Regions from separate parts of the Homo sapiens genome. Here region 2 is linked to region 1. Evidence: fine-mapped expression QTL. A gene starts in region 1. The other region holds a variant in brackets. All regions are shown on one strand. Distances are between the middles of the regions.

Region 1 (10,820 bases):
AGAGGAGTATGGAATGTGTGCCACCAGCCACCTCACTACCCTATCTTTCTCAGAGCCAGCACTGAGCAACCTCGGCCTCCCCTTCAGCAGCTTTGACCACTCTAAAGCCCACTACTATCGCTATGATGAGCAGTTGAACCTGTGCCTGGAGCGGCTGAGGTGAGGAGAAGGTCAGGGGTTGCAGGAGGTGACAGTGCCAATGACCCAGAGCCAGGGAGGGTCTAGGGGAGAGGCTGAGCAGTGAGTGAGTGCCTATCCCCTTGAAGAGAGTATATCATGGCTCTGGGTGGGGAAGAGGAGGAAAGATAGGATTCCCTAACCTGTGTCTATTTCCCCCCAGTTCTGGCAAAGACAAGAATAAAAGCGTCCTGCAGGTGAGAAGGGCTGAGGGGAGGGCCTCTCTAAGGAGACTCACCTCCCATGGTCCTTCCCTCACACACCTTGCCCTCTTCCCTCCCCTCCCTGCTCCCAGAACAAGTATGTCCGATGTTCTGTTAGAGCTGAGGTACGCCATCTCCGGAGGGTCCTGTGTCACCGCTTGATGCTAAACCCTCAGCATGTGAGTAGTCCCACAGTAGGTTTCTTGAGGGGGAGAAGGGGCTAAGAAAGGAGGGACAGAGTCTAGGGTGGACCAGGGTAGTTTTTGACCTGCCAGAAAGTTCCTAAAATTATGCCCCCATCTCCCTCCTAGGTGCAGCTCCTTTTTGACAATGAAGTTCTCCCTGATCACATGACAATGAAGCAGATATGGCTCTCCCGCTGGTTCGGCAAGGTAAGCCAGGCCACCCTCCCTGGGATCACACCCCCTTCAGACTCCCCCCAACCATCCTACAGTCCTCAGGGGAAGGGTGGGCTGAGGGGCCCTTTGAATAATATAAGAACATTCCCCACTGACTACTACTTCCTCATTCTCTCCTTAGCCATCCCCTTTGCTTTTACAATACAGTGTGAAAGAGAAGAGGAGGTAGGGGCCAAGCCCCCACCCCATCCCACTCCCCTTCCCTCCCCAGATATTTATGTGAAATGAACTGCAGCTTTATTTTTTGAAATAAAAACTTTTAAAAAGCACCTCTCTTCTGCCTTATTCTTCCTGCCTCACACTCATGCTGTGTCCTGCCTTCTTCAAAAATCCTCTGAGTTTCATTGTGAAGAAGGGCCTGTCCTCTATGGCCATGGGCCCTCAATGTCTTGCCAAAGGAGAAGGGTAGAGGATCCCTATATGTGTGAAACCAGGCCTCCCACACCACTCTTTTTGGTGATGGGAAGGTTTCCTGGAGGGGAGCTCTCAGCTGTCTTTGTATGCTGCAGCATACAGTGCGGGTGCGGGCCTCTTAGGAGGTTTCCTAATTCAGCGGTGGTGAGAAGGCTAGAGTTGGACAGTGGCTGCTGCAGGATTGAACAAGTGTGATTTTTTAAAGAAAAATCCAAAGAATTGCATTATAGTTTTATAACTTGGGGGATGGGGACAAAAAGGAGGGAGAAGTCTAAAAAACAAATGGAGTGGGGCCACAGGAATTGTCAGAAATGGAGGCTTAGGCTGTCCATACAGGATTCAGCAAGTACTTGGGGACTGCGACTAGAAGAAGCCAGGGTGGGGAATAAGTAGCTGAGGAGGAGAGGGAGCTGATGTGGAGGAGAGCAAGGGCAACTTCAAGGAACAAAAGGGAAGCTGCAAGGCACCAGCTCCATTAATTCAGCAAACATTCCTTGTCTGTATGCCATGCCAGGGTCCTTGTTCTATGGTTCTCTCAGTGGGGTAGCTAGAAACTTGCCCAACAGACAGGAACAGACAGAAGCCAAAGCAAAGAATTCCTGAAGGTAGCCGGCCTGCTGCCAAACCTGGGACAAACTGTATGGAGGCGCAGCGTGTGTAGCCAGAACCCGAGTTAAAACCTAGGTCCCACCCTGGCCGGTCTGACTCCACGGCTTCTAGGGGTTGGTTGTGCGAAGCTGTTGAGGGCTGAAGGCGCTAACCATCAAAGATGGAGGTCGGGTGGCAGAAGATGGGGTGGGAGGCAGAGAGTGAGTACAGCGAAGGCGGCCTCAACTGGATAAGAAAACTCCAGACTTGCGGGAAAGGCCTGAGCTCGCATTGGACGCTCTGGGGTGCCACAGTCGGACACTGTTTCCGGGAGACCTCCGCCTCTCCGCGCGGATGAAGAGGCTGCAGACGCCGAAGAAGAGCTCGAGTGCGTGGGGCACTGATGGGGATCGGGGTGGGCACACAGCAGACGGCCTGGGTACGCTTCTTTCCTGACATGGTCTCCAAGGTTAGCAAAGCTTCCAAACGTTTCCAGGCCTCCAGCCTGGAATGCCTCTCCCCCCGCTCCCCGACCTCTTCCAGGAACACCCCAGCTCAGGGCTCCCCACTCCCCTTCCTGCGAATTGAAGCTCTGTGGGCTTTGCGGTCCGGGCGGGCGAGTACCTGGCGGCCGGGGCTGTTCTCCAGGAGTTTCTGCGCGAAAAGTTTCCTAGGAGTGACGGGATGGCGTGGGCTCAGGGGAGAGTAGAAACGCTCCCGGGGGCTTTGCAGGGACCGAGCAGCTGCGGGAGCTGGGGAGCAGTCTGACTGGGACTCCCTGGAAGGCCCTGCCATTGGGGCTGGGCGGCAGCTCGGCGTCGAAAAAGCCGGGTCTGAAGATTAATGTGCCGAGGCCGGAGACCCTGAGGACCAAGTCACGGGACTTGCCCTTGGTGACTCACGCCTTGAGGCCGAGCAGCGCGGAAGGCGCTCAGGCCGGATCTGGGGTGGGGCCCAGCCGAGCCTTGGTCTTGTCTGTCAGCAGCGGCAGCTGCACTGCGTCTCCCAAGGTGGCTGAAGCTGGCCAGCTGCGGGCTCCGCGCCGCTCGTCCCGGGTCTATGGGTCCATTCCCCACGCCCACCCGGACCCCGGGGTCACTCGGGTCTCCGTCTGTGCCAGGGAGGGAGAATCACGCCCAGGGTCCTCTCTGGCTTCGCGCGACTGAGAACGCGCCCGGACGCGGCGCGGCGCTCCTGAGTCAAAGGAGAGGTGGCGGCAGGACCACCCCAGGGCGCCGTCTGCACCCCCGGACGCACTCGGCCGTGCTGCGCTTCCGGGACAAGGCGTCGGTTCTCGCCTGAGGGCCAAACCTTGCCCCTGCCCACCTTCCTCACCCCCGCCATTTCCAGGACTCACATCCAAAGGCGACAGCACCAGGATTTGCTCCCGCCTTTGGCACAGAGGAGGACGGGTCCCTCTCTCAGCCTGGCCAGTCTTTCCCAGGGCTTGATGGGAAAAAGGACTTCCCTAGAAGTGAGTCTTGGGGAGTTGGGGGGAGAAAAGTGTCGAGGAGGGCGTCGGAGTTTCCCACCGCTGGCTGCTTCCCGGCCCGCACGCCCGGGAGGGTGGCGGTGGGCGCGCAGAGATCTTTGCAAAACAGCGTCCAGGGCGGAAAACAACTCACAGGCCTGCCGCCCCCAAAGTCACGAAACTAAGATATAAGGACCGGTTCACTCCGCAGTAGCGCTTTCTGAAAGAGAAAACAATCCCAGAAGTGTGCGGGACGGACGGAAGCCCCGCCTCACGCTCCTCCGCCTGGACTTTGCTCCCTGAACTCCCACTGCCCTCTCACTCCGGTTCACGGACGTTTCCTAAGGGTGGGGAGGAGGGGAGCAAGCTCTTCGCTGAGATTGTCCTTGTCCACCTCCCCAAGGGGGTTATTCCGAGGGTCCTCCAACCCTGCTACACATTCACAGAATTCAGTGGAATGTCCGGGCCGGCAATCCGAGACTAAAGGTCGTTTATTGAGCAGGCCTCCGTGCCACCAGTGGGGAACGGGGTCGAGCGGGGGCGGCCCGGGGTGGAGGAACCCGCCGATGGGGTGTGTGGGTGCAAGATAAGGTGGGGGTAGGGCTGAGGGGTGAGAATGGGAAATCTGAAAGGGGAGGTGTGAGGAAGCATCCTTAAGCGGGAATGGGGTGCCTTCCCAAGACAGCGAATTTGGAATGTGGGGATCTCTACAAGGGGAGGGAGCGCAGGGCCCCGAAATGTCTGAATGGACAATCAAAGGAATCTGAGAAGGTGGGAAACACAAGAGACTGCCTGAAAAGGAAAACCGTTGGCCCCGCGGGGCCAGCGGTGAAGGCTGGCCTCCGTGCATCTCTTGAGAAGGATCGTGAACAGGGAGGGTTCTACCCGCGGGTGGGAAGAGGCGAGCACCCAGGAGCTTCTGTGCTTCCAAGCTGGGGTGGGGGGTAACCTATAGGACAGCCGAGTGAGTGTCCCCTCCCCAACCCAGAACAAGTTTTAATCTCTTAATCTTCCTCATTAATCACTCACCCTCCTACCCCTCTCTGTGGATCCGATTTCGCCCCAGCTCGAGTTCCAGTACTGAGAAAAGTCCCCTTCTGTGGCCCCACGATCCCCTGGACTAGTCCCTGGCCGCTTTGACGACCTTAGAGGGGCCTCTGCTGTCCTGGGCCTCCTCCCTTTGCTACTCTCCACTTCCATCTCCTCCCCCAAACTCATGTTTAGGAGCTGTCCAATCCCAGTACCTGAGCCCAGCTGCAGAGGGGAGAACTAGGCGGGAGAGATGGAAGGGGCTGTGAGGCACAGGCCCATCAGCAGAGCTCCACACTCCTCACAGACACACGTAAGTAATTGAGAGCAGAGGTAGAGACAGACACAAAAGCCACATAGAGGATGCATGAGTGAAGGTTGCAGCATCTGCTTGGTGATATGCCTGGGATGCAGTGGGGCAGTTCCTGCTGCCTCCAGAGAGCTGCTTTATTGCACATTAAGTGAAACCACTAGGATGGTTTCCAGGGCTGAGGCCTGTAGCCCGAAGATCTCTCCAGGCCCTCCCCTGCCCCTCACCATTAATAACCATTTAACAACGTCCTGAGGCAGCTCAGCTTTCCACCATGGCCTGGCTCTGCTCTTTGATCCAGCAGTGGCCCATCAGCCTTTAAGTGTGTTGCTCAGCTTTCCAGGAGGGCATTATGTGAATGTTGCGGGTGGGGGAGGGGGGTTGTTGGAGTGAGCCCTTTACCAAGAAGACCCTATCAAGGTGCCTTCCCATCTTTGTCAAGGAGTCTTTGGCCCAGGTGCCTTGGATCTCCTAAGCCCTGTTTAGGGAACCCCAATTGCATGCAGCAGTTGCCCCAGGGAATAGACAGGTGGACACTGCACAGATGGTGGGAGATGCAGGGGTCTACAAGGAAAGTGACATAATGGACAGTCCAGGAGGGACTGGCCTGGTTTTTCCTGACACTGTTTTAAAAAGCTAGAAGCACATCAGTTTCTGACTTCCCTGGGCAGCAAAGCAGCAAGCTCCTCAGGAGTGGCAGGGCTTCCCTGCTCTAAGGTGTGAATCCTCCAGCTGTTTGGGGTGGAATGTAGGAACAAAACCCATACCCTGCTGGGCCTCAACTGCTGAGGCCCCACTGTCCCTGAGCTGCCTTCTTCCTACAAAGGAGGGCTGTGGGTGCTTACCCAGGTATGAGCCCAGAACCAGAATAAGTGTGGCAGATAAAAAGGGCCCAGATTAAATAGGAATGAGTATACCAGGCCTCACAGTTAGTACCTGGGTTGTCAGGAATGTCCCAAGATCCAGCTGGGTCCGTGAAGTCTGCCCTTCAAGTCTCTCTTCTATGGGGAGTGACCCCTCTCTGGTCAGGGCACCTTGCTCCCCTTGGCAGTTTCTGAGCCTCTGCAGGCTGGGGAAACCATACATACCTGAACTATGGGAGCTTAATAAAAAGAAGATAAAGACAGACAAAATCGACTGATTTTGCCAGTCCTCACTGACAAAGACCCCTCCTGGGCAGTTGCACCAGCTGGGAGTTCCCTGGGTCTTCTCTCCTGCGGCCCGGGTCTCCCGGCAGCTTCTCTGTGTGTTCTGATTTCGTCAGGTGGGGCAGCCTCGGGTCCATTCACCTGTGCTTGCTTCTTCGTGGCATCCCCACTATTCCCAGTTGCAGTCGCTCCGCCAGGCCAGGTCCTCCCAAGTGTTGCGCCCCCGACCCATGCAGCACTAATCACTTCCAGCCGTCAGGACCAGAAACAACGTTTCTCAGGGGTGGGGTGGGGAAGAGGGAGCCAGGTTAGGAGACTGAGGTCCTAGCTGGGATCAGAGATCCCAGCACAGTCAGCCCTGATAGCCTTCCTCAGAACTTTGCAAATCCCCAGCCGCTGGGGCCAGAGAAGGCAATTTTATCGTCTACTAGTTTATGAGCCGGAGCGGCGGCTAGGCGGGGAGTCGGCGGCATACAGCGTCTGGAGGTATGGCCCGGCCTGACTGTGCACGGTGCAGCGCCCCGCAGCGCGGAGCAGCCCCGTGGCCCTGCTCTGGTGGGTAGTTTGGTCGGCTTCTGCTCTCCGCGCCTGCCCCAGCCTGTAGAAATACCCTCCCCGGACATCTAGGAGCTCCAGATCCACCGCGGCCCGGGGTGGAGAGGTGGGGGCGCAGGAGGAGGGGCACACGGGACTCGGGCCCAGAGCCGGGGGCGGGTCCGAGGCTGGGGGCCCGGATTGGGAGCCGAGCACTGGGGCCCAGGCGTTTGCGGAGCCTAGCGCAACGGACAGCCGGACCGCCCCAGCCCGGCCGACCATGAACTCGGGACGCGAGCCCCGAACACCCCGGACACTCTTAAGCATCGCAGACATCCTAGCCCCGCGCATGGTCCCCCGAGCACCCTCTGCGCCGCAGCTTCCAGAGTCGGGTCCGGGTCCAACGTCGCCGCTGTGCGCGCTGGAGGAGCTGACTAGTAAAACTTTCCGCGGACTTGACGCGCGCGCTCTGCAGCCCTCTGAAGGTATAGAGCCGGCAAGGTCGCGGACTCTGACTTAGCCTTTTCCTCACCTCTCTCCTCCTGGTTCCCCGTCTCAAACCTTTGTCCCAGCCCAGGCCACCCACCCTAATCCTCCCCTGTCCTCAGCCCACGTGCCAGGACTCGCACCTGCGACTTCTCACCTCTCCTCCGTTAGTCCCTAGGTTCCGCGGCGGCTCCGGAAGGCCGCCAGTGCCAAGGGAAAAGGGCAGACCGTCGCCAACTGAGCGACCTGTTGCTCTGTTCCTTGTAGGCGGGGCAATCGCGATAGAGAAAGGCAGGAGAGAAAGAGACAAAAGGCTTCAGCCGCAGGCGGTAAACGAGTGAGCCTGCAAAGGCGGCACAGAAAGCGCTGGAGAGTCGAGTCTTTCCGGGTGACCAAGCTCCGCTCCAAGCCACTCTCTTCTCGAGGGGAGTCAAGGAGCAGAAAGCCCTTGGCGCAGCACTGGGCGCGGGATTCCGCACTCTGCCTTTTCTCGCTCTCTGTACCTCATTATCTCCCTTTGGGGCCGGAGGAGCGGGCTCTGGTGTCACTAAGGAACTGTAAACCGAATGCCCGACCCGATCCATGGAAGGGCATGATCTAAGTCCTGTTACCACCACCACGCTGGGTCGGCTGCCCTGACTCTTACTCGCCTCTGATGTCACCCTCAACTTATAGCCTGCTCAGCCTGAGGCTCCTAAAAGCCTCAAAGGCTCCACCCCAGAAGGTTTGACCCTGCACCTCTGAATCATCCCTCCCTTCCTTCACTTCCTTGCCCCTACAATATGCCCTCAGCCTGCTGCCTTTCGCACCCCTGTGGCCAGCCCGCTTTGCGCCCCATATCCCCACCTGGGCCTGACTCCCGATAAGGGATCACAGTTCTGGTCTCCGTCCGCCTTCCTGGCTCTCCCTCTACTTCCCCCACCGCCACCGGCCCGACCCCACCCCCAACTTTTCTTTCCAGGCCCAGCCTGATTCCCGGAGGCTGGAAACTGACCCCCTCCCTATCCCTACAGGGCGGGCAGGTCCGGACGCGCTGGGCCCTGGTCCCTTCGGCCGCAAACGGCGCAAGTCACGCACTGCGTTCACCGCGCAACAGGTGCTGGAGCTGGAGCGGCGCTTCGTCTTCCAGAAGTACCTGGCGCCGTCCGAGCGAGACGGGCTAGCTACGCGACTCGGCCTGGCCAACGCGCAGGTGGTCACTTGGTTCCAGAACCGGCGAGCCAAGCTCAAGCGCGATGTGGAGGAGATGCGCGCCGACGTCGCCTCGCTACGCGCGTTGTCCCCGGAAGTCCTGTGCAGCTTAGCACTGCCCGAAGGCGCTCCAGATCCCGGCCTCTGCCTCGGCCCTGCCGGCCCTGACTCCCGGCCCCACCTGTCAGACGAGGAGATACAGGTGGACGATTGAAGACAAAGCCGCCGCCAATCCTGGGCTCTGGGGCCCTGGACTCCTCACCTCGCGCTCTGCCTCTGGCCAGAGTTCCAGGGTGGAGGAAGGAGGTCCACTTGGGCCTCTTCCGGCCCACAGTCCAGACGCTCACCTTTCCCGGTTTTTTTGTAAGTTTGTTTTGTTGTCTGAGACAGGGCCTCGCTCTGTCGCCCAGGCTGGAGTGCCGTGGAGCGATCACCGCTCACTGCAGTCGCGACCTCCTGGGCTCAAGCGATCCTCCTGCCTCAACCTCCCGACTAGCTGGCATTACAGGCGTGCAGCACCACCCCAGGCTAATTTAAAAAACTTTTTTTTTTAGAGAGGAGGTCCCGCTATGTTGTCCAGGCTACTTTCCCAATATTTGAGAATAAAGTCGAGACTCTGCCGCACCATGCCTCTATCCAGACGCCCGCCAGAAGCAAGAAACAGTAAAATCTGTAAAGTGCTATGGGGAGTCCGCACTTGGCACTGTGCCAGGGCTTTCAATGCAATGTTTCCTTTAGCCCTTATAGCAACCCTTTAAGGTAGGTAATAATTACACCATTTTTACAAAGTCAGAACCCTGAGGTCAGGTTTTGGACCCAGCATCCAGCCAGCCTTCAGAGCTGATGCTTATCAGTCTACCAAGGGGAAGTCACCGGGCCTGAGTGAAAGACAGTGGGGCCTTGGCCCACCTACTGTCTGCCTGGGAGACCTTGATTCTAATCCCTAGGTTGGCCCCAGAGTGATGACATTGTTTCCCCACCTGTTAATGGGTTCCTGACCCTTTCCCCATCCTGCCAAAAGAACCCTCCGCTGGGACACAGGCAAATAGACGGGTGCCCAGAGAGGCCACACCCCTACCTGGAAGACCTCTGCCAGGCCCCTGGGCCAGAAATTTTACCACTAGGATGGTGGCAGCAGCCAGAGGGTGGAAAGGCTTGGCCTGCTGGGGCGAAGCTTGGAGTAGTGGCCTTGCCTGGTAGGGATTCCAGCCTAACTCAGCCAGTGGACATTTCTGACATTCATTTATTCCACTGGTGATAATCACCCTCCTGCAGTGTGAGGGGAGAGGAGGGGGAACGCTCAGTAGTTGCAGGCCTTCCCCTCCCCAGTGGTCCCAGCCAATCTTCAGATCAAGCTCAGTTGTCTTTCCTGCTTCCCTTCTCTCCTGTCAGTCCTCTGGCTCTCTTCAGACTTTCTCCTGCCTCTGCCTAAGTGTGACAACCCTACTTTCAAGGAAGTTCCATGGGTTCAACGGGGGTCAGCTAGGGCCTTAGTTGCAGGTGGAGGGCCCAAGAGAGAATATTCCTTGGAAAGTGAACAAGGCTGGAAGGCAGAAGGGAATCTGGCATTTTCAGACAGTACCACTTATTAAGCAGTTCCAAGTGCTTTGCAGGTATTAATCCTTAAAATAACCCAACAGGACAGAGACTTTTCTTTCCATTTTAAGGATGAGACTGAATTACAGAACCCTGAGGAAACTTGGCCAGGTCACAGTTTGTAAGTGGTGGCACAGGGACTGAGCTGTTTGCTTGTCCGACTCAGGAGCCCATGCTCTTGGTCTCTATAAAGGTGACTGAGCCTAAAGGAAAGAAGCAAAGGATTTACAGAGAAAGGGGAGGAGAAAGGGCCACAGGTAGGGACTTAGGCATTGTACTTTAGAGCATGGTCCCTGGAGGTTTTAGAGAAGAGAGACAAGAGACCATTGTTTAGGGTAGGCCAATCTGGCTGTGGGCGCAGGTTGGATCAGAGACTGGTAGAGACCTGAAAAAGGGAGTATATATCTGGCCACTGCAAAAGGTAACAGCAGAGAGAACTCAGGGCCAGACTTGAGGTGGGGCTGGGAGGTGGTCACAGAAGAGGAATCTGCGATTGCCCCAGGGATCAAGGATTGCATGAGTCAATGACAACCTAGCAAATGTGGGCAACTGGAAGAAAAATGGCAACATGGAAACAGACAGTGACCACTGGTGTGGAGCTAAGAATCTGTCAGCCATTATGCATATGCAAAAAAATAATTCTTTGCAACTGCATTGCCCCTTCAGTACTCCCTTCTAAATACTGCCTCTCTGGAACATTTCCAGTAGGGTGATCAACTCTTTCCCATCTGCCCAGCATTTTCCAAGTTTTGGCATTGAAAGTCCCTCACTCCAGAACATCCCTCAGTTCCAGGAAAACCAGGATGGTTGGTCACTCTACTTTCCAGTCCTGGGAACTCAGAACTCAGGCTGTTGGGTCAGACCCCTATTAATTAGGAGGGTGAAAATGGGGCAAAGTGTCAGGAGTCACGTGACTCTTGGAGAAGCTACAAGTCCAGGGCAGGCTAAGGTACTGGGGAGGGAACATTTACTTGAGAAGCTAGAACAAGGAGCCAGCTCAGCTGGAAGGCAAAAATACCATTGAGTAGTGGTGGGTGGCCTTTGAGAGGTCAGGAGCCCTACAGACATCCCAAAAGCATGCAGGTCCCTGCTCAAAAACAGGAAAGCCAGATGGGCAGGCCTCTTATGGAACCACTGTAATATAATCACCCCTTGGACAAACACAACCACCTATGCCCATCCTGCTCCCCAACCAGGGGTGAGCAAAGAACTCTCAGGGCAAATCCTTCTAGTTAGGAAGGTAGGGTCCAGTCA
Region 2 (16,345 bases), 32 kb after region 1:
TTTACAGAGCAGCTGCCATTAACCACATTTACTGGGGTTCCTCTCCCTCAAGATGGGCTGTAGAGCAGAAACCAGCTTTATTGCTGTGTTCTCTCCCTCCAAAAACAACCTATCAAACCAAAGAAACAAACCCAGCATATAGGCCTTTTCTTGCTTTATGGGTTATATTGCTCTGGAGTGGGCTGTGAAGAATAATAATATATAATAATGCCTTTCAATGTAAGGACATTCCAAAACTTCCTGAGTCTCAGAACATTCAAATAGTCATTGCTTCTGGTTTACATACAGTTCTTGTCTTCCTTTTGTAGGTGATAACCAAAAGATCATTGTAGGCTGGGTGTAGTGGCTTAGTGGCTCACATCTGTAATCCCAGCACTTTGGCAGGCAGAGGCAGGCCGATCACCTGAGATCAGGAGTTTGAGACCAGCCTGACCAACATGGCAAAACCTTGTCTTTACTAAAAATACAAAAATTAGCTGGGTGTGGTGGTGCACTCCTGTAGTCCCACCTACTTGGGAGCCTGAGGCAGGAGAATCACTTGAACCCGGGAGGCAGAGGTTGCAGTGAGCCGAGATCACGCCACTGCACTCCAGTCTGGGCGACACAGCAAGACTCTGCCTCAAAAATAAAAGGTCGTTGTAATTCCCCTTTCTTCCCTCAATTTCTGCCCATTGCAGATCATACAATCCCTCTTTCTGGCATATGCTCTGTGTGTGTGTGTGTGTGTGTGTGTGTGTGTGTGTGTGTGTGTGTGTGTGTGTGTGTGTTGCGGGGGTGGGGGCAGGGTATGTCTTTCTTTTTCCTTAAAGCTCTTGTATAGTAAAATTAACCTCAAGGATTTTCCATCTTTTGAACCAAGCTGGGGAGAGCAAGGTAATCCTAGGGCAATTGTTCATAATTTGGGTCCAGACCTCTTGGAAAACCCAATGACAACTATGGCATTGCTCCTCAAAAAATGGCCAGGCATACACAACTATGCAACAATTCTGGGGTTTTATGGATGTCAAGTTGGACATAGAGCTCCTTAGATATAGAGGATCATCATAATTTGACAAGCCCCTTTTACTTTCTCCCTATCCCTACAGCTCCTGCCTGAAGAGTCACTAAGTGTCTTTTCTCAAGAATGTCATAAACAAGCCATGCAAGGTTTCAAGCTCTACATGCCACGGGGTCGGTACTGGCGGCTTCGTCTCTGTCCTGGTAACTCCTCATCCCAGCTTCTCCTTCCAGAGTTCCAAGGGGGTAATAGTGTCTCAGCCCTTCCAAATTCCGGTTCCCCTCCACTGTCTCCATCCTTGTCCTCAGCTTCTGTACCCTTCCCTCCTGAAATCCTACCCTCTTCTCCCAAACACTCCATTTAGGGGTTCAATGGATCTCCACAGCCTTATATTCTGTCTTCTCTATTCCAGAACCTCCCAGTGCTCCTAGTGAGTATGCTGGTTTAGTGGTCCGCACCGTACTGGAGCCTGTGTTGCAAGGATTGCAAGGGTTGCCACCTCAAGCCCAGGCCCCTGCCCTTGGTCAGGCTCTGACGGCCATCGTGGGTGCCTGGCTTGACCACATTCTTACCCATGGGATTCGGTTCAGGTCAGGAGTAAAGGTGGAAGTGGCAGGGGGTGAATGGAACTGGGAAAAGGAAGGGGATAAGTGGGAGAGGCAGGAGGGTCAAGTGGCCATACTGTACCTCTGCCTTCAGCCTGCAGGGAGCGCTGCAGCTCAAACAAGACTTTGGAGTGGTCAGGGAGTTGCTGGAAGAGGAGCAGTGGAGCCTGTCCCCTGATCTCCGCCAGACCCTGCTCATGCTCAGCATCTTCCAGCAGCTGGATGGGGCCCTGCTGTGTCTGTTGCAGCAGCCCCTGCCCAAGTCTCAAGTCCACAGGAGGCCCCCCTGTTGCTGTGAGTTACTCCCCTTCGCTCACTGCTTTGTGTGTCCCAAACCCTATTCTCACCATTAATCTGGCTTCAGTATATCCCCAGCAGCCACCTACCTTCCACTCCTGCCTTACCAGGTGCTTGTCAGGAGGTCCAGACCACGAAATTGCCCAGCAGCTGCCTCAATAGCCTGGAGAGCTTGGAGCCCCCGCTCCAGCCTGGAACATCTCCAGCCCAGACAGGTCAGCTGCAAAGCACACTAGGAGGAAGGGGACCTAGCCCGGAGGGCTACCTGGTGGGAAATCAGCAGGCCTGGCTTGCCCTCAGGCAACACCAGCGACCCCGTTGGCACCTGCCGTTTTTTTCCTGCCTGGGAACCAGTCCTGAATCCTAAGGAGCCTGGGACCAGGAGCCAGAAAGTTAAGAGCTCCCCATCTCTAGCTGGAAAATCCAGACATTTGGAATTGCATATTAAGGAAGCCCAGAACTGGAAGCTTGGAGGAAAGCATACTGGAGAATAAGCTACAAAGAGCCTGGGCTTAAGAATCCAAGATTAGGGGCTGGGCGAGGTGGCTCACGCCTGTAATCCAGCACTTTGGGAGACCGAGGCAGGCGGATCATGAGGTCAGGAGATCAAGACCATCCTGGCTAACACGGTGAAACCCTGTTTCCACTAAAAATACAAAAAATTAGCCGGGCGTGGTGGCGGGTGCCTGTAGTCCCAGCTACTCGGGAGGCTGAGGCAGGAGAATGGTGTGAACCTGGGAGGCGGAGCTTGCAGTGAGCTGAGATCCAGCCACAGCACTCCAGCCTGGGTGACAGAGCAAGACTCTGTCTCAAAAAAAAAAAAAAAAAAAATCCAAGATTAGGCAGGGCATGGTGGCTCACACCTATAATCCCAGCACTTTGGGAGGCTGAGGCAGGCGGATCACCTGAGGTCGGGAGTTCCAGACCAGCCTGACCAACATGGAGAAACCCCGTCTCTACTAAAAATACAAAATTAGCCAGGTGTGGTGGCGCATGCCTGTAATCCCAGCTACTCAGGAGGCTGAGGCAGGAGAATCGCTTGAACCTAGGAGGCGAAGGTTGCGGAGAGCCGAGATTGTGCCATTGCACTCCAGCCTGGGCAACAAGGGCAAAACTTCGTCTCAAAAAAAAAAAAAAAAAAAAAAAAAATCCAAGATCACTCCAGCACCTGGAATCCAGAGTAAAGAGCAAGACCATAGCCTGGAACCTGAAGGTCAGACCCTTGGGAGGTTCAGGCCTAGTTCTCCATCACTGAAGATATCTCAGGGATAAAGAGTTGAGTGCTCGGCCAGGTGAGGGGGCTCACGCCTGCTCACGCCTGTAATCCCAGCACTTTGGGAGGCCTAGAGGGGCGGATCACGAGGTCCGATCAAGACCATCCTGGCTAACGCGGTGAAACCCCGCCTCTACTAAAAATACAAAAAATTAGCCGGGCGTGGTGGCACGCGCCTGTAGTCCCAGCTACTCAGGAGGCTGAGGCATGAGAATCGCTTGAACCCGGGAGGCAGAGATTGCAGTGAGCCGAGATCGCGCCACTGCACTCCTGCCTGGGCAACAAGAGCAAAACTTCGTCTCAAAAAAAGAAAACTGGCTAGAATGCACTTCAACTTAAGTCCTGGGAGCTACGCTAATTCATGGAGAACCACAGAGGTTTAATAGGCATTTCTATACCTGGATCAGCCCCAAGGACAGTATTACCCTGTACTGCCCTTCCTATTACTATTTTCAGTCATTTACTAATATTGGGCTGTAGTACTTTCACGTTTAAGCTTTGGCTATTCAGAGCTCACTACGTTTAATCTTCAGTTACCTGAATGGTGTTTACCTTCTGGTGTGGATCATCCCGGCTTGTGTTAGTGCTCTCTCTTTGGAAGAAGCCAGGATTTAAGATCGAGTTAGCCTAGATGTGGCCCAGCAGGGTACAGAAGGGGAAAGGCTGCAGAAAACGGGCGTATTTTCGTGCAAAGAGGTTTTTGCGCCATTTATTTATGGTTTTCACCGTCGTATGAGAGGACTATTCATGATAGGCTGTATTTGCTGACAGCCTACTTTGGGCTCCCCCATGCGTTGTGCCGAAACCACCTCTTTCTTTCCTGCCTTCCTCCGCCTGGGCTAGGAAGCCCAGAGCTGCGGTTCGCAGGCCTGCTAAGCAGCCGGCGGCCGGAAGTCTATCCCGCAGAAGCGCAGCCATTCACGGCCTCACGCAATGCGACACTTCCGCCTGCACGAGTTCTTCCGGGGCGGAGGTCACCATGGCAGCTGCCTTGGCTCGGCTTGGTCTGCGGCCTGTCAAACAGGTTCGGGTTCAGTTCTGTCCCTTCGAGAAAAACGTGGAATCGACGAGGTACGAAGGGGAAGTGGGTAGAAGCGGGAAGTGGTGCGCCTTCCTTCAGCCGGGGCTTTAAGCCCTCAGCTTGGCGCTCCTCTGTTTTTCCACCGTAGGACCTTCCTGCAGACGGTGAGCAGTGAGAAGGTCCGCTCCACTAATCTCAACTGCTCAGTGATTGCGGACGTGAGGCATGACGGCTCCGAGCCCTGCGTGGACGTGCTGTTCGGTGGGCTTGGTGGAGACGGGCAGGAGGGAACAGCGAGCAGCCCGCGCGCCCCTAAGCCCCAGCACTGCGGTCCCTCCCTGTCTCACTCGTTTGTTTCTTCCCCAGGAGACGGGCATCGCCTGATTATGCGCGGCGCTCATCTCACCGCTCTGGAAATGCTCACCGCCTTCGCCTCCCACATCCGGGCCAGGGACGCGGCGGGCAGCGGGGACAAGCCGGGCGCTGATACTGGTCGCTGACAGCGCCAAAGAGACCAACAAGATGATTTTAGCGTGGACTAGGACACTTAACCTAAGAAGAGTTTCACTTAATCATTCAAATCACTATCTGAAGGGTCACGGAGCGCAAAATAAAGTTTAAAACCCTGCTACCACAATGTTTCTGGAACAAGACTAGATCAGAGAGGTGTCTGGATGAACCTGAATTTATTTCACTTTCTTACTATCACTCACTGCTTAACCCTTTTGAATTTGGCTTCTGGCTTCTCCTACCACTCACTCAAGGTACCTCTTTTTTTTTTTTTTTTTTTTTTTTTTTTTTTTTGACTGGTCTGTTTCTGTCGCTCAGGCTGGAGTGCAGTGGCATGATTCTAGCTCACTGTAACCTGGGCTTAGCCGAACCTCCCAAGTAGCTGGGAAGTTGGGACTACAGGCACGCCCCACGCGCCACCACGTTTAGTTAATTTTTAAATTTTTTTGTAGAGAAGGGTTTTCACTATGTTTCCCAGGCTGGTCTTGAAGTTCTGGGCTCAAGTGATCCTCCCACCTTGGCTTCCCAAAGTGTTGGGCGTGAGCTACTGTGCCCAGCCCTCTTACTTTTACCAAATCTTGTGTGAAAGAACACTGATAGGCTGAGCGTGGTGGCTCACATCTGTAATCGCAGCACTTTAGGAGGCCGAGTCAGGCAGATCACCTGCTTGGAGAAACCCCACCTCTACTAGAAAATACAAAAAAATTAGCTGGGTGTGGTGGCACAAGCCTGTAATCCCAGCTACTCGGGAGGCCGAGCGAGGCAAGAGAATCGCTGGAATCCAGGAGGTGAAGGTTGAAGTAGGCTGAGGTCACACCACTGCACTCCAGCCTGAGCAAGAGTGAGACTCTGTCTCAAAAAAAAAAAAAAAACAAAAACACTAACAGAGTGCTGTTTTTTCAGCTCTCATCGTTGTATCCCAGTTCCATCTTTTTTTTTTTTTTTTTTTTTTTTTTAAATAGAGGTGGGGTTTTGTCCTGTTGCACGGGCTGGTCTCTAACTCTTGGACACAAGTGATCCTCCTGCCTCGGCCTCCCAAAGTGCTGGGTTCACAGGCGTGAGCCACCAACGCCTGGCCGCATCTACAACTCTTGTTTTTGAGATAGAGTCTCACTCTGTCACCCAGACTGGAGTGCAGTGGCGTGACCTTGGCTCACTGCAGCCTCCGCCTCCCGGGTTCCAGTGATTCTCCTGCTTCAGCCTCCTGGGTGGCTGGGATTACAGGCATGTGCCACCACGCCTGGCTGATTTTTGTATTTTCAGTAGAGATGGGGCTTTGCCATGTCAGCCAGGCTGTCCTCAAACTCCTGATCCGCCCCCTCGGCTTCCCAAAGTGCTGGGATTACAGGCATGAGCCACTGTGCCCGGCCTGCAACTCTTAATTCACCCATTTGTGGAACTTCTCTCCCTCTTGGGTCCTTTTTCTTTTGAACCACACAGGTGTTCTACCTTCATTCTTTTTCTTCTCTATTTTTTTCTGGGGCATCTCATCCTCTTTCACAACTTGAATTACACCTTCTGGGGTTAAACTATTTCTGTTTGGTTCTAATCCCAACTTCTATGCTATAATCAGGTTACCTGCTACCAATTTCCTCCAAATCCCACCAACTCTCTTTGTATAAAATAGAATTGATAATCTTACATACACATATACTTGCCTCTCTTCCCTGACTTACCCATTCCTTTTTAAAAACAGGCACTTCATCTACTCAGCCACCTGGGCTGGAAACCAGTGTTCTCTAGTTCTGTTCCTTTCCATTCTCTGCATATCTGGTCACTCAGTTCAGAATATTCTGTCTTTTAAAAAAGTGCCTGAAAGTTGGGCAAGGTGGCTCATACTTGTAGTCCCACCTACTCAGAAGGCTGAGACAGGAGGATCCTTTTGAGCCTAAGAGTTCAAGGCTAGAGTGAGCTGTGGTTGCACCACTACACTCTAGCCTGGTGACAGAGCAAGACACTGTCTCAAAAACAAAACAAAACTTCTGAAGTGATCTCTCCATTCCCATTCACTCTATTCATCATTATTGCATTCTGCTACCCAGTCTATTTCCTAAATATTTTTGCTGCCACTTAATTTTATCCTTCCAAAACATGCGATGGGTTTTATCTCTCACTACTCCCTGTTTAAGAAAACAGTGCC[G/A]GCCGGGCATGGTGCCTCATGCCTGTAATCCCAGCACTTTGGGATTTGGCCGAGGTGGGTGGATCATGAGGTCAGGAGTTCGAGACCAGCCCAACCAACATGGTGAAACCTCATCTCTTAAAAATACAAAAATTAGCCGGGCGTGGTGGCAGTTGCCTGTAATCCCAGCTACTCAGGAGGCTGAGGCAGGAGAACTGCTTGAACCCAAGAGGTGGAGGTTACAGTGAGCCGATACTGCACCACTGCACTCCAGCCTGGGTGACAGAGCAAGACTCCGTCTCAAAAAAAGAAAAAACATTGCCTAAACTGTTTTTCATACTTCCTCAACACTCATTAGTGTGGACCATGCAATCAATTTAGGGAGTTAAACCATTCTTTTTTTTTTTTTTTAGATAGGGTTTCGCTCTTGTTGCCCAGGCTGGAGTGCAATGGCACAATCTCAGCTCATTGCAACCTCCGCATCCCGGGTTCAAGCAATTCTCCTGCCTCAACCTCACAAGTAGCTGGGATAACAGGCATGCACCACCATGCCTAATTTTGTACTTTTAGTAGAGGGGGTTTCTCCATGTTGGTCAGGCTGGTCTCGAACTCCTGGCCTCAGGTGATCTACCCACCTCGGCCTCCCAAAGTGCTGGTATTACAGGCATGAGCCACCGCACCCAGCCTAAACCATTCTTAAAAAAATAATAATAATAAAATAAAATAAAAAAAGTAGGCCGGGTGGAGTGGCTCATGCCTGTAATCCCAGCACTTTGGGAGGCTTTGGCGGGCAGATCACTTGAGGTTGGGAGTTAGAGACCAGCCAGGCCAATATGATGAAACGCTGTCTCTACTAAAAATAAAAAAATAAAAAATAGCTGGGTGTGGTGGCAGGCACCTGTAATCTCAGCTACTCAGAAGGCTGAGACAGGAGAATCACTTGAACCCAGGAGGTGGAGGCTGCGCTGAGTGGAGATCATGCCACTGCACTCCAGCTCGGTTGATGGAGTGAGACTCTGTCTCAAAAAAAAAAAAAAAGTAGAATAGAATAAAAATTATCAGACTGAGGCTGAGTTTAATGGCTCATGCCTGTAATCCCATCACTTTGAGAGGCCGACGTGGGCGGAATCACCTGAGGTCAGGAGTTCAAGACCAACCTGACCAACATGGTGAAACCCCATCTCTACTAAAAATACAAAAAATTAGCCGGGTGTGGTGGCGGGCACCTGTAATCCCAGCCACTTGGGAGGCTGAGGCAGGAGAATTGCTTGAACCCGGGAAGTGGAGGTTGCAGTAAGCCGATAGCACCATTGCACTCTAACCTGGTTGACAAGAGCAAGGCTCCATCTCAAAAAAAAAAAAAAAAAAAATCAGACTGCATGGCACTTAGAATAGGAAGTTTAAAGAGATTAAGTCATGCTTTGTCACCCAGGCTGGAGTGCAGTGGCACAATCGTAGCTCACTGCACCCTCCATCTCCTGGGCTCAAGCAGTCCTCCCGCCTCAGCCTCCCAAGCAGCTGGAATTACAGGCGTGAGCCACCATGCCTGGCCTAATTTTTTTTTTTTTTTTTTGAGATGGAGTCTTGCTCTGTTGCCCAGGCTGGAGTGCAGTGGAGCACGATTTTAGCTCACTGCAATCTCTGTCTCCTGGGTTCAAGCGATTTCCAGCTAATTTTTGTATTTTCAGTAGAGACAGAGTTTCACCATGTTGGCCAGGCTGGTCAGGAACTCCTGACCTCAAGTAATCCACCCTCCTTGGCCTCCCGAAGTGCTAGGATTACAAGAGTAAGCCACCGTGCCCAGCCCTAATTTTTTTTTTTTTTTTTTTTTGAGACGGAGTCTTGCTCTGTCGCCGATGGTGCCATCTCAGCTCACTGCAACCTCTGCCTCCCGGGTTCAAGTGATTATCCTGCCTCAGCCTCCTAAGTAGCTGGGATTACAGGCGCGTGCCACCATGCCCAGCTAATTTTTGTGTTTTTAGTAGAGGCGGGGTTTCACCATGTTGGCCAGGCTGGTCTTGAACTCCTAACCTCAGGTGATCCACCGCCTCAGCCTTCCAAGGTGCTGGGATTACAGGCGTGAGCCACCACACCCGGCCAACCCTAATTTTTAAATTTTTTGTAGATGGGGGGGTCTCCTCATCTTGTCCAGGCTGGTCTAGAACTCCTGAACTCAAGTGATTCTCCTGCCTTGGCCTCCTAAAGTGCTGTGATTACAGACGTGAGCCACCACACCCAGCTAAAAGTATTCTTTTAGGTAACTTGTTTTAAATAAGTTGTGTGTGTATGTGTATCTGCACATACTGGGTTGCACTATGGAATTATTTCTTATTGTGAGTTGTAGGAAAATGGTTGAAAGCCACTGCTTTAGACACCTTCACAATGCTCAGCTAGGTAACAAAAGATCTGTAGACAGTGGCCTGCTGTGTACTTTGCCAGATACATTTCCCACGACCCTCCTACAGCAGCATTACTATACCTTTTCCCGGTCTAAAAGGGTGCTATCTTCAAAGGACCGTTTTTCCCCTCCCCCTTTAAAAAAGAAAGCTAGGAGGAGGCAGTATAGTGTTGTAATGAGCCAGACTGCTTGGGGTTGAGATCCTAGCTTTGTTTTTATGTAGCTGTATGACTTTAGACAAATTATTTAATCTATCAGTGCTTATTTCATTTGTAAAATGAAAATAATAGTACTTTTCTCATAGGACTGTTAAGGAGATTAAATGAATTAATATCTGTAAAGTACCTAAAACATTGCTGGGAGTGTAGTAACTGCTGTTATCTAAGAGGCCTTATTTATTCTTTTTTTTTTTTTTTTTTTTTTTTGAGACAAGAGTTTCGCTCTTGTTGCCCAGGCTGGAGTGCAATGGCACAATCTTGGCTCACTGCAATCTCTGCCTCCCGGGTTCAAGTGATTCTCCTGCCTCAGTGTCACGAGTAGCTGGGATTACAGGCATGCACCACCATGCCCAGATAATTTTGTATTTTTTAGTAGAGACGGGGTTTCTCCATGTCGGTCAGGCTGGTCTCGAACTCCCAGCCTCAGGTGATCCGCCCGCCTTTGCCTCCCAAAGTGCTGGGACTACAGGCTTGAGCCACTGCGCCTGCCCTAAGAGGCCTTATTCTAAAGTCAAAAGAACAACCTGGATTTGAGTTCCCCAGCTCCATAATTAACTGGCTGTTATTTTGGGTCAGTCTTAACTACTCTCCTCATCTGTAAAAATGGGGGTGGTCTGGCCAGGCGCGGTGGCTCACGCCTGTAATCCCAGCACTTTGGGAGGCCGAGGTGGGTGGATCACCTGAGGTCAGGAGTTCGAGACCAGCCTGGCAAACCTGGTGAAACTCCATCTCTACTAAAAATACAAAAATTAGCTGGGCGTGGTGGTGGGCACCTGTAATCCCAGCTACTCGTGAGGCTGAGGCAGGAGAATCACTTGAACCCTGGAGGCAGAGGTTGCAGTGAGCCGAGATCATGCCATTGCACTCCAGCCTGGTGACAGAGCGAGACTCCGTCTCAAAAAAAAAAAAAAAAAAAAAATGGGTATGGTTCAACATGCATTGAGTGCTGGCATTGTGCTTCTAGACTGTGAACTTGAGGTTGGGGCCATTTTCTCTGAGTCCCCAGCACCTTGCATAATGCGATATAGGGTGTACAATAAACATGTGTTGAATTTATAAATATTTAGCATCTGCCTTATGCCTATAATTGATTAGTACTGTGATACAAAGATGAAAAATGAAACAGGTATGTAATAAGTGCTACAATAAGGATGTCGACAAATGCAACGGTAGCAAGAAAGACAAAAACAGGACTAACCATTGGGTTTGGTCAGATGATTTCATAAGCAAAAAGTCTACCACTAGTGGAGAGTGGGGCCACCAGTCAGATTATAGTGAAATATAAGTGGTCGTGTTGCATAAAGCATCAGTCTCTCTCTCTCTCTCTCTCTCTCCCTCCGTCCCTCCCTCCCTCCCTCCATCTCTCTCTCTCTCTCTCTTTCTTTTTTTTTGAAACAGTTTCACTCTTGTTGCCCAAGCTGGAGTGCAATGGCGCAATATCGGCTCACTGCAACCTCCGCCTCCCAGGTTCAAGCAATTCTCCTGCCTCAGCCTCCCGAATAGCTGGGATTACAGGCACCCACCACCACACCCGGCTAATTTTTGTATTTTTAGTAGAGATGGGGTTTCACCAAGTTGACCAGGCTGGTCTCCAACTCCTCATGTCTGGTGATCCACCTGCCTCGGCCTCCCAAAGTGCTGGGATTACAGATGTGCGCCTCGGTGCCTGGCCACATCAGTCTTTTTTTTTTTTTTTTGAGACGAAGTCTCGCTCTGTCGCCCAGGCTGGAGTGCAGTGGCACAATCTCGGCTCACTGCAACCTCCGCCTCCCGGGTTCAAACGATTCTCATGCCTCAGCCCAACGTTAGATTGGTTTTTCCGAGCCTGTGAACTCCATGGGGTCGCCAGATAAACGCAATCCCGGTGGACCAACGCCCAGGACAGACGCTACGTACCAACCCTGTGTCAAGCCGCAGGCAGCGGTTCCGGACTCTGGGACTTAACCTAACGTGGCGGGGCGGGACTTCCGGCGGGAGGCGGAGGCGGAGGCGCAGGCGCTGGCTGGCAGGTGTCGCTAACCGGACGGTGGTCGCCAGGGCGAGAGGCGGGAGCCGGAGAGGTGAGGCAGGACCCGGGCTCCACTGCCGCCTCTCCGAGCTCTTGTGACGCGGACCTCAGTGCCAGGATGGCTCGGGGCGAGCGGCGGCGCCGCGCAGTGCCGGCAGAGGGAGTGCGGACAGCCGAGAGGGCGGCTCGGGGAGGCCCCGGGCGACGGGACGGCCGGGGCGGCGGGCCGCGTAGCACGGCTGGAGGAGTGGCTCTGGCCGTCGTGGTCCTGTCTTTGGCCCTGGGTATGTCGGGGCGCTGGGTGCTGGCGTGGTACCGTGCGCGGCGGGCGGTCACGCTGCACTCCGCGCCTCCTGTGTTGCCTGCCGACTCCTCCAGCCCCGCCGTGGCCCCGGACCTCTTCTGGGGAACCTACCGCCCTCACGTCTACTTCGGCATGAAGACCCGCAGCCCGAAGCCCCTCCTCACCGGTAACCGGGCCCCAGGGCGGGCAGGCAGGCGGACTCCTAATCTGGGCGCCCCAGCTTGAAGCGAGAGCAAGGGTGGGAAGGAATGGATCAGGAGAGTTATGAAGAGGGATGACCCGGAGACCCGGAGGGACAGGTCCCCTGCTCTTTGACTTACGTGGCCATTCTACCCCCAGGACTGATGTGGGCGCAGCAGGGCACCACCCCGGGGACTCCTAAGCTCAGGCACACGTGTGAGCAGGGGGACGGTGTGGGTCCCTATGGCTGGGAGTTCCACGACGGCCTCTCCTTCGGGCGCCAACACATCCAGGATGGGGCCTTAAGGCTCACCACTGAGTTCGTCAAGAGGCCTGGGGGTCAGCACGGAGGGGACTGGAGCTGGAGAGTGACTGTAGAGCCTCAGGTCAGGGCCTCAGGACACCCTTTTCTCAGCCCAGACCCCCTCCATCCTTCCCTTGCTGCCAGCAAATGCAGCATGAAGTGGGCTCTGGCTGCCTGGCTTAAATCCTGCCTTAAACAACTGCCTGTATAACCATTTCTATTTACCATCTCTAAGCCTTGATTTCCTTGCTTGTAAAATGTACAATGTAGATAATAATAGCACTTAACTCACAGGACTGTAAGAATTAAATGAAAAAGAGGCTGGGCGCGGTGGCTCACGCCTGTAATCCCAGTACTTTGGGAGGCCGAGGCTGGCGGATCACCTGAGGTCAGGAGTTCCAGACCAGCCTGACCAAAATGGAGAAACACCGTCTCTACTGAAAATATAAAATTAGCCGGGCGTGGTGGCGCATGCCTGTGATCCAAGCTACTTGGGAGGCTGAGGCAGGAGAATTGCTTGAACCAGGGAGGTGGAGGTTGCGCTGAGCCGAGATCGTGCCATTGCACTCCAGCCTGGGCAACAAGAGCAAAACTCCATCTCAAGAAAAAAAAAAAAGCCAGGCGCGGTGGCTCACGCCTGTAATCCCAGCACTTTGGGAGGCTGAGGCGGGCGGATCATGAGGTCAGGAGATGGAGACCATCCTGGCTAACACGGTGAAACCCGGTCTCTACTAAAAATACAAAAAATTAGCTGGGCGTGGTGGCGGGCGCCTATTGTCGCAGCTACTCGGGAGGCTGAGGCAGGAGAATGGCGTGAACCTGGGAGGCGGAGCTTGCAGTGAGCTGAGATCGCGCCACTGCACTCCAGCCTGGGCGACAGAGCGAGACTCCGCCTCAAAAAAAAAAAAAAAAAAAAAGAATTAAATGAAATCAACTGTGTAGAGTTCTTAGTGTAGGACATAGTACAAAAGTATACTGTTATCTCCCAGGGCACCCAGTGCAAGGCTCTTTATCTCATCCCGCTTGGGTGTACCTGGTTACCCTCAGTGACCCTCATTACTGCCAGACGTATGTTGTTTACATTACCCCTGCCTACTGTTCCTTTCCCTCACTAAGGCTGATTCTCAAGAGGGAATTCAAGAGAGAATGCCAATCTAACACTGTTCTTTTCTGTCCTCGTTGGTCACTCAGGACTCAGGTACTTCTGCCCTCCCTTTGGTCTCCCTGTTCTTCTATGTGGTGACAGATGGCAAGGAAGTCCTACTACCAGAGGTTGGGGCCAAGGGGCAGTTGAAGTTTATCAGTGGGCACACCAGTGAACTTGGTGACTTCCGCTTTACACTTTTGCCACCAACCAGTCCAGGGGATACAGCCCCCAAGTATGGCAGGTAACTGGGGGAAAAGAATGTTGGGGGATGGAAGGGGTGGTTATTCCCATTTTCACCAGTCTCCATGTCCCCTGCCTGAGACCTCCCAACCTGACTCCTGAACACTTTGTATTTCTCTTTATAATGCCCACTGCCTTCTCTTGAATAATATTTCCTATTTATCTTCTCCCCTTCAAGCTACAATGTCTTCTGGACCTCCAACCCAGGACTGCCCCTGCTGACAGAGATGGTAAAGAGTCGCCTAAATAGCTGGTTTCAGCATCGGCCCCCAGGGGCCCCCCCTGAACGCTACCTCGGCTTGCCAGGATCCCTGAAGTGGGAGGACAGAGGTCCAAGTGGGCAAGGGCAGGGGCAGTTCTTGATACAGCAGGTGACCCTGAAAATTCCCATTTCCATAGAGTTTGTGTTTGAATCAGGCAGTGCCCAGGCAGGAGGAAATCAAGCCCTGCCAAGACTGGCAGGCAGTCTACTGACCCAGGCCCTGGAGAGCCATGCTGAAGGCTTTAGAGAGCGCTTTGAGAAGACCTTCCAGCTGAAGGAGAAGGGCCTGAGCTCTGGCGAGCAGGTTTTGGGTCAGGCTGCCCTCAGCGGCCTCCTTGGTGGAATTGGCTACTTCTACGGACAAGGGCTGGTATTGCCAGACATCGGGGTGGAAGGGTCTGAGCAGAAGGTGGACCCAGCCCTCTTTCCACCCGTACCTCTTTTTACAGCAGTGCCCTCCCGGTCATTCTTCCCACGAGGCTTCCTTTGGGATGAAGGCTTTCACCAGCTGGTGGTTCAGCGGTGGGATCCCTCCCTCACCCGGGAAGCCCTTGGCCACTGGCTGGGGCTGCTAAATGCTGATGGCTGGATTGGGAGGGAGCAGATACTGGGGGATGAGGCCCGAGCCCGGGTGCCTCCAGAATTCCTAGTACAACGAGCAGTCCACGCCAACCCCCCAACCCTACTTTTGCCTGTAGCCCATATGCTAGAGGTTGGTGACCCTGACGACTTGGCTTTCCTCCGAAAGGCCTTGCCCCGCCTGCATGCCTGGTTTTCCTGGCTCCATCAGAGCCAGGCAGGCCCACTGCCACTATCTTACCGCTGGCGGGGACGGGACCCTGCCTTACCAACCTTACTGAACCCCAAGACCCTACCCTCTGGGCTGGATGACTACCCCCGGGCTTCACACCCTTCAGTAACCGAGCGGCACCTGGACCTGCGATGTTGGGTGGCACTGGGTGCCCGTGTGCTGACGCGGCTGGCAGAGCATCTGGGTGAGGCTGAGGTAGCTGCTGAGCTGGGCCCACTGGCTGCCTCACTGGAGGCAGCAGAGAGCCTGGATGAGCTGCACTGGGCCCCAGAGCTAGGAGTCTTTGCAGACTTTGGGAACCACACAAAAGCAGTACAGCTGAAGCCCAGGCCCCCTCAGGGGCTCGTTCGGGTGGTGGGTCGGCCCCAACCTCAACTGCAGTATGTAGATGCTCTTGGCTATGTCAGTCTTTTTCCCTTGCTGCTGCGACTGCTGGACCCCACCTCATCCCGCCTTGGGCCCCTGCTGGACATTCTAGCCGACAGCCGCCATCTCTGGAGCCCCTTTGGTTTACGCTCCCTTGCAGCCTCCAGCTCCTTTTATGGCCAGCGCAATTCAGAGCATGATCCCCCCTACTGGCGGGGTGCTGTGTGGCTCAATGTCAACTACCTGGCTTTGGGAGCACTCCACCACTATGGGCATCTGGAGGGTCCTCACCAGGCTCGGGCTGCCAAACTCCACGGTGAGCTCCGTGCCAACGTGGTAGGCAATGTATGGCGCCAGTACCAGGCTACAGGCTTTCTTTGGGAGCAGTACAGTGACCGCGATGGGCGAGGCATGGGCTGCCGCCCTTTCCACGGCTGGACCAGCCTTGTCTTACTGGCCATGGCTGAAGACTACTGAAGGGAGGGAGAGGAGGGGAGCCAAGACACTCATGCCACTCTGGCTCTGAAGGGACAAAGGCTTCTGGCTTTTGCCCCCAGCCCCTTGGATACCAGTAATTCAAACCTTCCTCATTTCATCTCAGGTGTCTCCTTGCTGTCATCCCACATAGCCCTGGGGTGAATGTGAATCCAGAGTCTATTTTTCTAAATAAATTGGAAAAAACATTTTGAACTCTATTGCTTTTGCCAGATTTGCCTCACCAAGAGGCCTTAGGTCAGTCCAGGCCTCAGCACTGTCTGCTGTCCTCAGGGAAGGTGGGGTCAAGTGGCCATAACCTGTCCCCTTCAAACCCAGTCAGGTCAAGTGCAATGCAGTGAGTTGAGCTTTAGTCCACCCAAATCCACAAGTAGCTGGTTCACATCTCTTTAATGAGATCAAAGGCTCCTGTGTATGTCCTGCGGGGGTAAAGCTAGCACAGTCCCCCAATACTGCCCCTCTCCAGCCCTTTCAGGCAGATTCTAGGTAGGCAGGGAGGGGCCAAAGGAACGCAAGGAGTTGGGACTAGGGCTGTTTCTGGTGGGCAAGTAACCCATCCACCCTCTCAAAACTACTTATGGGATGTCCCCTTCACTGGAAGACAGCCCCATGGGAAAGATCTGCGGTACAGACTCTGGGGGTAGTGCACACGGGGAGTAGTCCTCCAGATCTGGCAGGGTGGCACTAACCCTCACCTCCTTGACTGGCTCACCCTCACCGGAGGCAGGACAAGGGCAGAGCTCAATACCGGAGTCGCCAGTTAAACGGCGATAGCGGCAGGAGGGGGGTG

The links.
Region 2: its variant is fine-mapped to the expression of LBX2-AS1 in whole blood (TOPMed, PIP above 0.99).

Annotation. Positions count from the first base shown.
Region 1 is chr2:74,495,291-74,506,110 of GRCh38, reverse strand. LBX2-AS1 (LBX2 antisense RNA 1) reads right to left here and starts at 3,518. Exons shown (of 2, transcript NR_152616.1): 1 at 3,159-3,518; 2 at 1,046-2,471. It overlaps LBX2 (ladybird homeobox 2), which reads left to right and starts at 6,508. Exons shown (of 2, transcript NM_001282430.2): 1 at 6,508-6,778; 2 at 7,793-8,594. The coding sequence starts at 6,574. The coding sequence ends at 8,184. It overlaps PCGF1 (polycomb group ring finger 1), which reads left to right. Exons shown (of 9, transcript NM_032673.3): 5 at 54-159; 6 at 341-374; 7 at 473-559; 8 at 692-772; 9 at 921-1,068. The coding sequence ends at 968. RefSeq lists enhancers at 2,619-2,688, 2,595-2,889, 2,360-2,985, 2,986-3,610, 8,162-8,211.
Region 2 is chr2:74,460,467-74,476,811 of GRCh38, reverse strand. It overlaps MRPL53 (mitochondrial ribosomal protein L53), which reads left to right and starts at 4,132. Exons shown (of 3, transcript NM_053050.5): 1 at 4,132-4,243; 2 at 4,342-4,454; 3 at 4,560-4,830. The coding sequence starts at 4,152. The coding sequence ends at 4,693. CCDC142 (coiled-coil domain containing 142) reads left to right here. Exons shown (of 9, transcript NM_001365575.2): 6 at 1,086-1,200; 7 at 1,410-1,587; 8 at 1,697-1,896; 9 at 2,010-3,980. The coding sequence ends at 2,266. It overlaps WBP1 (WW domain binding protein 1), which reads right to left. Exons shown (of 4, transcript NM_012477.4): 4 at 15,931-16,345. The coding sequence ends at 16,131. It overlaps MOGS (mannosyl-oligosaccharide glucosidase), which reads left to right and starts at 11,430. Exons shown (of 4, transcript NM_006302.3): 1 at 11,430-11,916; 2 at 12,090-12,316; 3 at 13,426-13,622; 4 at 13,800-15,755. The coding sequence starts at 11,565. The coding sequence ends at 15,537. It also overlaps INO80B-WBP1. RefSeq lists enhancers at 4,094-4,193, 4,594-4,723 and silencers at 9,156-9,450, 11,644-11,863. The variant G/A (reference allele first, on the strand shown) is at 6,844.